2 linked regions of the Homo sapiens genome follow. The protein of the gene in region 2 purifies or fractionates together with the protein of the main gene of each other region. This does not show direct contact. Each region holds a gene or a part of one and is shown on either strand. Other genes may lie near its edges.

Region 1 (4,689 bases), on a different chromosome or scaffold from region 2:
CAGAGGTATTGATAGGTTGTATCATTTATTGTTCAGTTCAAAGAATTTTTAAATTCCCATCTTGATTTTGTTATTGACCCAGTGATCATTCAGGAGCAGGTTATTTAATTTCCATGTATTTGCATGGCTTTGAAGGTTCCTTTTGGAGTTGATTTCCAGTTTTATTCCACTGTGGTTTGAGAGAGTACTTGCCATAATTTCAATTTTCTTAAAATTTATTGAGGCTTGTTTTGTGGTCTATTATATGGTCTATCTTGGAGAAAAGTTCCATTTGCTAATGAATAGAATGTATATTTTGCAGTTTTGGGTAGAATGTTCTGTAAATATCTGTTAAGTCCATTTGTTCTAGGGTATAGTTTAAATCCATTGTTTCTTTGTTGACTTTCTGTCTTGATAACCTCTTTAATGCTGTCAGTGGAGTATTGAAGTCTCCCACTATTGTGTTACTGTCTATCTTGTTTCTTAGGTCTATTGGCAATTGTTTTATAAATTTGGAAGCTCCAGTGTTTGGTGCATATATATTCAGGATTGTGATATTTTCCTGTTGGACAAGGCCTTTTATCATTATATAATGTCCCTCTGTCTTTTTGAACTGCTGTTTCTTTAAAGTTTGTTTTGCCTGATACAAGATAGCTATTCCTGCTGACTTTTGGTATCCATTTACATAGAATGTCTTTTTCCACCCCTCTACCTTAAGTGAGTCCTTATGTGTTGGGTAAGTCTCTTAAAGGCAGCAGATAGTTAATGAATTCTTATCTATTCTGCAATTCTGTATCTTTTAGTGGAACATTTAGGCCATTTACATTCAATCTTAGTATTGAGATGTGAGGTACTATTCCATTCATCATGCTATCTGTTGCCTGTATACCCCCCACTTTTTTTTTAATTGTATTTTTGTTTTGTAGGTCCTGTGAGATTTATTCTTTAAAGAGGTTCTGTTTTGATGTGTTTCCAGGATTTAAGATTTAGGGCTCCTTTTGGCAGCTCTTGTAGTGCTGGCTTGGTAGTGGTGAATTCTCTCAGTATTTGTTTGTCTGAAACACACTGTATCTTTCCTTCATTTATGAAGCTTAGTTTCACTGGATACAGAATTCTTGGCTGATAATTGCTTTCTTTAAGGAGACTGAAGATAGGGCCCCAATCCTTTCTAGCTTGTAGGGGTTCTGCTGAGAAATCCACTGTTAAGTTGATAGGTTTTCCTTTATAGGTTACCTCGTGCTTTTGCTTCACAGCTCTGAAGATTCTTTCCTTTGTCTTAACTTTAGATAACCTGATGACAATATGCCTAGGCAATGATCTTTTTGCAATGAATTTCCCAGGTATTCTTTGAGCTTCTTGTATTTGGACGTCTAGGTCTCTAGCAAGACTGGAGAAGTCTTCCTTGATTATTCTCCCAAATATGTTTTCCAAAAGTTTTCTTTGTTTTTTTTTTTTTTTTGGAGACAGAGTCTTGGGAGTCTTGCTCTGTCACCCAGGATGGAGTGCAGTGGCACGATCTTGGCTCACTGCAACCTCCGCTTCCCAGGTTCAAGCAATTCTCCTGCCTCAGCCTCCCCAGTAGCTGGGATTACAGGCGCACGCCACCATGCCTGGCTAATTTTTGCATTTTTAGTAGAGATGGGGTTTCACCATGTTGGCCAGGCTGGTCTGGAACTCCTGACCACAATGATCCACCTACCTTGGCCTCCCAAAGTACTGGGATTACAGGCGTGAGCCACCGCACTCAGCTGGTTTTCTAAACTTTTAGATTTCTCTTCTTCTTCAAATGCCACAGGTGTTTGAGTTTTTTTTGTGATTTTTGTTTTTTTAAGCTCATCAGCTATTGTTAGTGTTAGTGCATTTTATGTGTGGCCCAAGACAATTCGTTTTCCAATATGGCCCAGGGAAATCCAAATGATTGTATACCCCTGCAAACCAATGGTGGAGATTCTCTTGGAGTAGAGCAAAAAGATTAAGGGTAATGACTCCAAAGAGCATGGGCGAGTGGGCAAGTTTAGGGAGTGTTAGCTGCACCTCTTCCTATAGTGTTTTATTTTGTTGAATGGCATGATAACCCAATCTGGTGGTAAACCCCAAACTTGGAATTAGCTCTAAAACTACCTCCTCCTTTAATTCTACTGTTGAATCTGTCAATTCTACCACCCATATTTTTCTCAGGTCTGTCTCTTCTTTTCCATCCTCGCTGCTTCTAGTTGAATAACCCATATGAAATTTGTTTCAAAAATGGCTGAATATCAGCAATTTCAAATTGCTCAACTCAAAACCTTAATTCAGTCCTTTATCAACTCTCATATATATTTTTGCAATAACTGTCCTTTCTACCCCCATTAAACCCTAGAGACATCTTTCTAAATGAAAACTAAATGGCTGGGTGTGGTGGCTCACGCTTGTAATCCCAACACTTTGGGAGGCCGAGGTAGGCGGATCACCTGAGGTCGGCAGTTTGAGACCAGCCTGACCAAAATGGAGAAACCCCGTCTCTACTAAAAATACAAAATTAGCCGGGCATGGTGGTGCACGCCTGTGATCCTAGCTACTCAGGAGGCTGAGGCAGGAGAATCACTTGATCCCGGGAGGCGGAGGTTACAGTGAGTGGAGATCGCACCATTGCATTCCAGCCCGGGCAACAAGAGCGAAACTCTGTCTCAAAAAAACCCCGAAAAAACAAAAAAACAAAAAATAAAGAAAACAAAAAAACCCTCAAATAATGGCAACTTGCTGCTTAAAACCCTTTAAGTGCTCCCGAATTCTCTACAGAATCAAGTCCATATATCTTAACTTGGTATATAATTCACTTAATTCCCAGTTTTCAACCTCTCTGGCTACTGTCTCTTTCTACACTCTGTGTTCTAGCAATACTGCTTTATTTGCAGTTTCTTTAAAAAATTATGCTGTTTTACATCTCTGTGCTTTTGTACATCCTGCTGTCTTTGCCTGAAAAGGCCCTTTCCTTCATTCTCTTTCCCTTTCCTCCTGAGATTCCTAGTTAACGCCTAAAATAGCACTCCTTCTATGGCACCATCCCAGATTACCCAGACAGTGTGTTAGTCTTTCTTTCCTCTGTTACACCCGAATAGCATACGTAGCTTTAAAGCTGTACTTAAGCTAGCTGTTTTTATTTCTGTCCCCTCAACGGATAGTTAATTCCTTTATAGAAACACTATTTTTTAGTATTTACACTGCAAGAACTCAAATATTAACTGTTAAATGAACAAATGGGCGTGAGAGAGCAGTTATGATGGAGAAGGGGTCAAAGGGGTACCAAGGAAGCCATTTTGCTATTCTCTCCTGACAACTTCCACCTTGCCAACATACTGCTTGGTCCTGTGTCAGGAAAAATGTATGAGCTTTTAGGGTGGTCTGGGTGAGACAGGTAATAGGAAGGTCCTAGTTAACAGCTGCTTTTCCCCAGGGAAAGTTCTCAAGATTTAGCATCTGATGGAGAAGAACACTCCTGAGGCTTACCAGCTGGGACAGCTATTATGGTGAAGCCAATTATTTATATGAAAGAGATTTATACAAGAACAGCTTTAGTTTTACGTTTTTTCTCTTGGCATCTTCTTCTTATCTGTTCTAAAAATAAATGAAAACAGCTGGTGGATTTGAGTTCTAAACTTTCTCCTCATATATAATCACTACTGAAGTTGTACAAGAGAAATGACTGAAAGGGTCACCTTAGAAAACAGTATTAAAGGCTGGGCATGGTGGCTCATGCCTGTAATCCCAGCACTTTGGGAGGCCAAGGTGGGAGGATCATGAGGTCAGGAGTTTGAGGCCAGCCTGGCCAACATGGTGAAACCCCATCTCTACTAAAAATACAAAAATTAGCCGAGTGTGGTGGCGCCTGCCTGTAATCCCAGCTACTCTGGAGGCTGAGGCAGGAGAATTGCTTGAACCCAGGAGGTGGAGGTTGCAATGAGCTGAGATTGTGCCACTGTACTCCAGCCTGAGCGAGAGAGCAAGACTCAGTCTCAAAAAAGAAAAAGAAAACAGTATTTTATTTTATTTTGAGACGGAGTCTTGCTCTGTCACCCAGGCTGGAGTGCAGTGGTGCAATCTCGGCTCTCTGCAAGCTCCGCCTCCCGGGTTCACGCCATTCTCCTGCCTCAGCCTCCCGAGTAGCTGGGACTACAGGTGCCCGCCACCACGCCCAGCTAATTTTTTTTTGTATTTTTAGTAGACCCGGGGTTTCACTATGTTATCCAGGATGGTCTTGATCTCCTGACCTCATGATCTGCCCACCTCAGTCTCCCAAAGTGCTGGGATTACAGGTGTCAGCCACCACGCCCAACAAGAAAACAGTATTTAAAAAATTTAAAAATCATATAATCTAGATACTAAATCAGCTGCTGAACTGCTGGCCTGGGTACTCACTATTGTGATCTTTAAAATAGCTCATTTGTTCATTTATTGGTTATCTACCATGTGCCAGACAGCGGCACAGCCAGCCACAAGAATGGATTTTTTTCTAACTCTGTGAGCTCTGGACATCATATACTATCTAGGTACCATTTAATTTCTAAATATCAGTAGGCTGCATGGTCAATGCCTGGCACAAAGAATGTTTGACACTGATGCTGATAACGGTGGTGGTAAAAGTAATAACAACAATAGCAGCAGCAACAACAGCAACCCCCATTTACCGAGTGTTTCCTATATCCCATGTATCAGCTAAGCACATTATATACA
Region 2 (5,950 bases):
CGTTATCCCGCCCAGCCCAGAAATCCCAGGCGCACTCAAATTATTTTCCCTTTTATTATCCCGTGGTAGGTGTGGCATAAAGAATATGTCCAGTGAAGCTCCAGGAGCAGGCTGCGTGTTTCCAGTCAAGTTCATAGCCAAGTCCTTTCCATCCAATGGGATTGTGACCCATTGAGGTCCCAGAAAGGACTGGTCATCTCCAATGGAGCTTGGGACCTGGTTGGGTCCAATGAGGTTCAAAAGGGGGCCAGTCGCTTAGGAGACTGGGTTGGAGCTTTCCTCATCCAATCAGGGCGGAGACTTCCCTGTCCAGTCCCAGTGAAGTTGGGCGATCCCGTCCAATCCAGGTCCCTGATTGTCCCAGTCACAAGGTGGGGCCCATGGATGGCACTGTCCGATCGGGTCACATGAGGCTGCAGCGCGCGGGATGCAGCGCCCCCTGCAGGCGCAGGGCCGGGTGTGCAGGGCGCGCGCGCACCAGAGCGCAGCGCAGCAGCTCGCGGAAGAGACGCAGCACGTGCCAGTTGTACTTGGCGGAGCACTCGAGGTAGCCGCAGCGCCAGCCCCTGCGCACTAGGGCGGCCAGCGCGCGCCGCGGTCCGAAGCGCAGCCGCTGCCTGTCCCGCTTGTTGCCTACCACGAGGATGGGCGCTTCGGGCGCGCCCGCCGGCCTGGGGGCCGAATGGAGATGAGAGACGCGGGGACCCCACGGCCGGAGAATTCCCCCAGTGGGTATACACACGCAGGCGCATTCCCTTCCTACGGCCAGAGACACCGCCCCCCCCGCCGCCCCAACGAAACCCCAGGCCCATGTGGGCCAAAGAGCACATACAGCTTAAGACCTTCCCACGGGCGAAGGCCTAAGACCCGGCCCACGACGTTGGGAGACCCTACACACTCTCCTCAGGCAAAGGCCCTGCCAGACCTGTCCTAGCTCCCCACCGCCAGAACTGCCGGGCCCCTACCTGGTCTCCGCGATGCGCTGCCGCAGGGCCTTCACGTAGTCGAAACTGTCCGGGCTGCAGATGTCGTAGACGAGCACGAAGGCGTCCGTGTCCTGCAAGCTCCAGTCCTTAGCGTCTGGCCACTCCTGGGGACAGGAGGCCAGGGTTTGCGGAAGCCTCCTTTCCACTCTTCCGCTCTCGAACCCTCTGCAGGGGCCTGGACGCTAATCCTCAGGCCAACATCACCCCCATACAGACCTCTGTGCCCCTCCCCCAAGCTTTCCGGGCCGTCTCCTCATGACCACCAGGGTAAAATTTTCCAAATCGTGCCTGGAGCCTGTCAGCCAGCCTCCTTCATCCTTGGTCTCCCCTCTGTTTACCCCGAATCTTCCTCTTTTCAGCTTTCCCCAACTCGGCTCAGGCCGCTCTCCTCCCTAGATGCTCTCGGTGCTTACCACGGCCTCTAAGACTAATTCCAAAGCCCTTGGCCCGAGTCCCGTGGTCCACCACGCCCCCAGATTGTCAGCTGTAACCGTTTATGACCGTAGCGTAAGCACCTGCTGGTCTTTCCACCTGGTATGTTTTTGCCACTTCCTTTACTCAGAACTTCACTCGGTCTTCCAGGTTCAGCTCAAATGCCACTCCCTCCAGGAAGCCCTGCTTAATCCTGCCTGCTCTTTCCTCTTCACTGCTCTAGGGTCGGAGGTCTGTCCTTTACTTTGCACAAATTACTAAACGAGTCTTCGCTCCAGGGGACAAAAATGATAGGGCAGAGAATGAACCCCTCCACCAGCCCCCGTAGAAAGTACACCCCTGCTCCTGACCCCAGTCTCTCCCATTGTAGCTCTGCTCAAGGCCCCAAACACAAAACGCCACACTCTCGGGAAGGCACCGTTATGCACCACCAAGAGCTGCTCCACACCCCCAGCCGAGGCAGGCAAAGGTGGAGGCGCTCACAGGAGCAAGGGAACGCCCCTGGGCAAAATCGCCCGGCCTCCAGCCTGGGCTTGGGCGTCTCCAGGTCGGCGGGAAGGGCTGAAACGCAAGTATCCCAGGACGCACACACATCCCTCCATCCCGGAGCACAGCCAGGCGCCCGAGGCCTCCACGCGGACACGCACGTGTGCACCGAGCACGCACACCCCTCACACTGTCACACGCCCCTGCCCGCTCCTCGAGCCGCTACCTCCGGACCCCCGGGGCTCGAGCCGGGGCCAGCGACGTCGCCGTCGCGGATGCTCAAGTCGTAGACGGCGCCGTCGAGCAGCACCGCGGGTCGGTAGAGGCGCGGCCCGTCCGTGGGCCGGTGGCGCTCGGGGTAGTCACCGAACAGGAACTGGCGGATGATGGCCGTCTTGCCCACGCCCGGGGCGCCTAGAACGGCCACCCGCAGGCTACCCCCCATGGCCGGCCGGCGCTGTCGCTCCCCGCGCTGGAAAGCCTCATGGGCCGGCGCCGCACCGTGCGCCCCCAGGCCGTGCGCCCCGCGCGCCCTGCCCGGTGCGCCACGGCCCCGTCGCGCTTCTCGTCGCCCCTCGGAGCACCGAGACCGGAGAGGGCAGGCCCGAGGCAGGAGCTGGCGGCGGGAGGGCAGACAGACAGCCGAGTGGGCAGACAGGTGGCGGGCGCGCGAGCGGCTCGGGCGGGTGCCGAAGCTCGAGAGAGAGCAGAGCCGGAGCGGCGCTCAGACACCGCCTCCGCCCCGCAGCGCCAACCCAGGCGCCGGCGGACGCGCGAGGCGCCGAAGTCCGCCCCTCTCGCGGCGCGGGTCCCGCAGCGGTGCGGGGCGCGGGGGGCAGCGCTGCCTCCCGGAGCCTCTGTGCCTCTATCCTTCTCTCGCTTCCGCGCCTGGAGTCGCCGCCCCAGCCGCCGGCGCGAGCGAGCGGGGCCTCCCGGAGGCGGCGATGAGGTAACCGCCCGCCCCTCCCACCTTCCCCCACCGCCCAGGACGCCCCTCCCAGGAAGGGTCGCAGGAAGGTGACTGGGGGACAGAGATCCCGGAGAGGGCCTACCCCTTCCTTACCTCCTCCGCGTGTCCCGCTCCTCTCACCCGCTCCAAAATAGAAGCCCCTTCCCACCCACTGCCGCGGCCGCTCTTCCAAACACTGCTCGCCCCCACGCTGGCTCCCGACAAGCCCCGGCCCCCGGAGTCAGGCCGCCCGGGGTCCGAATTGGGGGGGGCGGCTGTGTGACCTTGGGCGAATCGCCGCACTGCGCTGGGTCTGCGCTCCGCATCCATCACAGGCAGACTCCTCAAGAGGCTCCAACCTTTTCTTGAGAGCCTACTATGTGCCAGGCCCATTACCTACGTGATTCTCGAACCTACAGCCTCAGCCTGGCATCGCTGGTTGAGAGAAGAGGAAACAGGCCCGAGAGGGGAATCTGCAAGGTTAGAAGGGCAGTGGGGGGGCCCTTGAAGTCTCCTTTGAAGTCCCTCCTACCTTCCTCCTGCCCACGGGGGTAAATGGCCCACACTAGACAATATTCAAACAGCCGTCCTCGAGGGGAAGTGGGGACAGAGGGTGCCGAGACCACAGCAGCTTAGCCCCAGATCCCTGTCCCAGCAAGGCTGGAGGTGACTAAATAAAGATCCAGAAATTGGCCCACTCCACCTCCATCACTACTAAGGTCACCTTTCCTGCGTGAGTTGCAACCCGTAGCGCCCCTCAAAGGGATGCAACCTCCAAAACAGGCGCCCAGAGCCCAAGTTCCCCCTCCCTCGAGCTAGTGGAGAAGCTCCTGCCCCATCACAGCTTGGAAAGCCTGGGTTAGCCCAGCCCCCCCATCCTCCGCCTCTGCTCTCCTCCCCGCTGTGTGGGGGCTCCCACGTCTCTGACCTGCACATGGCAATGCTCAAGAAATGGCGGCAATGCTCAAGAAATGGCCGCAATGCACAGATCTCTGCACTGACTAAGGAGTTCATTTATTTATCCCCTCAACAAATATTCCAAATCTTATTGCTTGTCAGGAGGCTGAGATAGATTTAAAAAACAGAAAACAGGAAAAAAAAAAAAAGTTCTGCTTTGGGAGAGAAGGTTCTAGAACACATGGGATCTAGGGACTGTCAAAGCACAGACAATGTGCCCACACCAGCCCAGGGGAAGTAGAGGAGCTAAATCCTGAAGGGGGAGGAGGCACATCCTCCAGGGAGCCTGTATAATGACAACCAGAAAGTGTCTCCAGAACAATGGCTGTGCTTTCATCCTCCCATGCTAGATCGGGGGCTGGGGTCCGCTTTCACTCCTCTCCTCAGCCACTAGGAAGCTCAGAACCACCTCTGTCTAGTGTTCCAGGTCTTCTAGCTCAGTGAGTGGGGACTGCTGGCTTCATCTTTCTTTCCTACCATGATTTTTCCCTTCACTTGATGTCCTCTTTCACGTTGTAACTTTTCAGACTTCTGGGTTTTGTTGTTTGAGACAAGGTCTTGCTCTGTCACCCAAGCTGGAGTGCAGTGGTGTGATCTTAGCTCACTGCATCCTCAACCTCCTGGGTTCAAGTGATCCTCCTTGCCTCAGTCTCTCAAATAGCTGGGACTGCAGGTGTGTACTACGACATCCAGCTGATTTATTTTTATTTTTTGTAGAGGTGGAATCTCACTATGTTGCCCAGGCTGGTCTTGAACTCCTGGCTTAAGCAATCCTCCCTCCTCAGCCTCCAAAAGTGCGAGGATTACAGGCGTGAGCCACCACATCTGGCCAAACTTCTGGGTTTTTGACTTTTCAGGCTTCTGGGTTTTGTGAGCTGCTTCAATTCCTTCGGGGAACAAGGCAAGGAGTAAATAACAAGGCACTCAGCAACACAACAACAAAACCCAGAAGTCTGAAAAGCTGACACCAGGACGGTCTTTTGTTTGTTTGTTTTGAGATGGAGTCTCGGTCTGTCACCCAGGCTGGAGTGCAGTGGTGCGATCTTGGCTCACTGCAACCTCCACCTCCTGGGTTCAAGCAATTCTCCTGTCTCAGCCTCTAGAGTAGCTGGGACTACAGGCACATGCCACCATGCCCGGCTAATTTTTGTGTTTTTTAGTAGAGACGGGGTTTCACCATATTGGTCAGGCTGGTCTCGAACTGCTGACCTCAGGTGATCCACCCGCCTCAGCCTCCCAAAGTGCTGGGGTTTCAGGCATGAGCCACTGCGCCCGGCCAGGACGGTCTTTTTTAAGGTGTTCTCAATGCTAGGCGCACTCCCGCCCACCCCTGGGTATTCTTTCTCTGAAAAACTTTCCTTGCTTCTCCTTCCGACACTGCAAACAGAGCTGTGTGTGAGGCGTCTCTGGCTCCCAGTATGTGTTTTTGGATGGCGAGGGGAAGGGGCACTGTGGACTGGGAACGTCCTGAGGCTCCCATGAAGCCCTGCAAACGTGCCATGTTCCCTAGGAGACTCTCACAGCAGCGTTCCTAGCAGCAGTGCCCATTTATCAAGGGCCTGCGATGTGCCAAGCCTGACCCACAGCCTCATGCTCACTAAGGCTCCCTGGGACGCCATGATTGGGCCACAGTTGCCTAGCAGGAAAATGGCAGCACAGGGGCCGGAACCCAGGCCCTTGGGCTCCAGAGCCTGGCTGAGAAGCCTGGCTTCATCTGGACCCAGAGGGTTCTCAGGAAGTACTCAACTGAAGCTCAGCCCCCAGTGACCACTCAGCCCCCTGTCGGGAGGGACTTGGGGAGGCCTCTAGGTCCCGTGGAGCCCCCCATCCACAGGGGCTGAAATGAGCTCTAATGGGAGTGTGCAGCCCTGTGCCAGGCTTCCTAAAGACCAGCAGGCTGGGGGGCTGAAGCTGCCTGTCTGCCTGGGATGTGGATTTCAGGGTTCTCTCATCAGTCCCCTCATTCCTTCCCCAAGGAAAGGCTGTAGGCCTCCTGCCTGCTGCCCCCCTCCAATCCCTATTCCCCAGGGGCCTCCTGGGCACTCCTTGAATGCCCCTATCCAGGGCTCCAGGGACCACCTGCCAACTATGCATGCATCTTCTCCTTCAGCAGAGGGGACTGGCACTAGGCACACAGTGG

What was found.
Region 1: the proteins of RASL10A (region 2) and RAP1GDS1 purify together in Homo sapiens (affinity purification with mass spectrometry; 3 studies listed by BioGRID and IntAct, with this or other methods). This does not show direct contact.

What each region holds. Positions count from the first base shown.
Region 1 is NC_000004.12:98,421,520-98,426,208, reverse strand, and holds part of RAP1GDS1 (rap1 GTPase-GDP dissociation stimulator 1), read right to left. Parts: intron 1-4,689. UniProt on the Homo sapiens protein: Acts as a GEF (guanine nucleotide exchange factor) for the Rho family of small GTP-binding proteins (G proteins) that stimulates the dissociation of GDP to enable subsequent binding of GTP.
Region 2 is NC_000022.11:29,312,898-29,318,847, forward strand, and holds RASL10A (ras-like protein family member 10A), read right to left. Parts: upstream 2,801-5,950; 5' UTR 2,350-2,800; coding exon 2,131-2,349; intron 1,091-2,130; coding exon 966-1,090; intron 672-965; coding exon 404-671; 3' UTR 36-403; downstream 1-35. UniProt on the Homo sapiens protein: Potent inhibitor of cellular proliferation.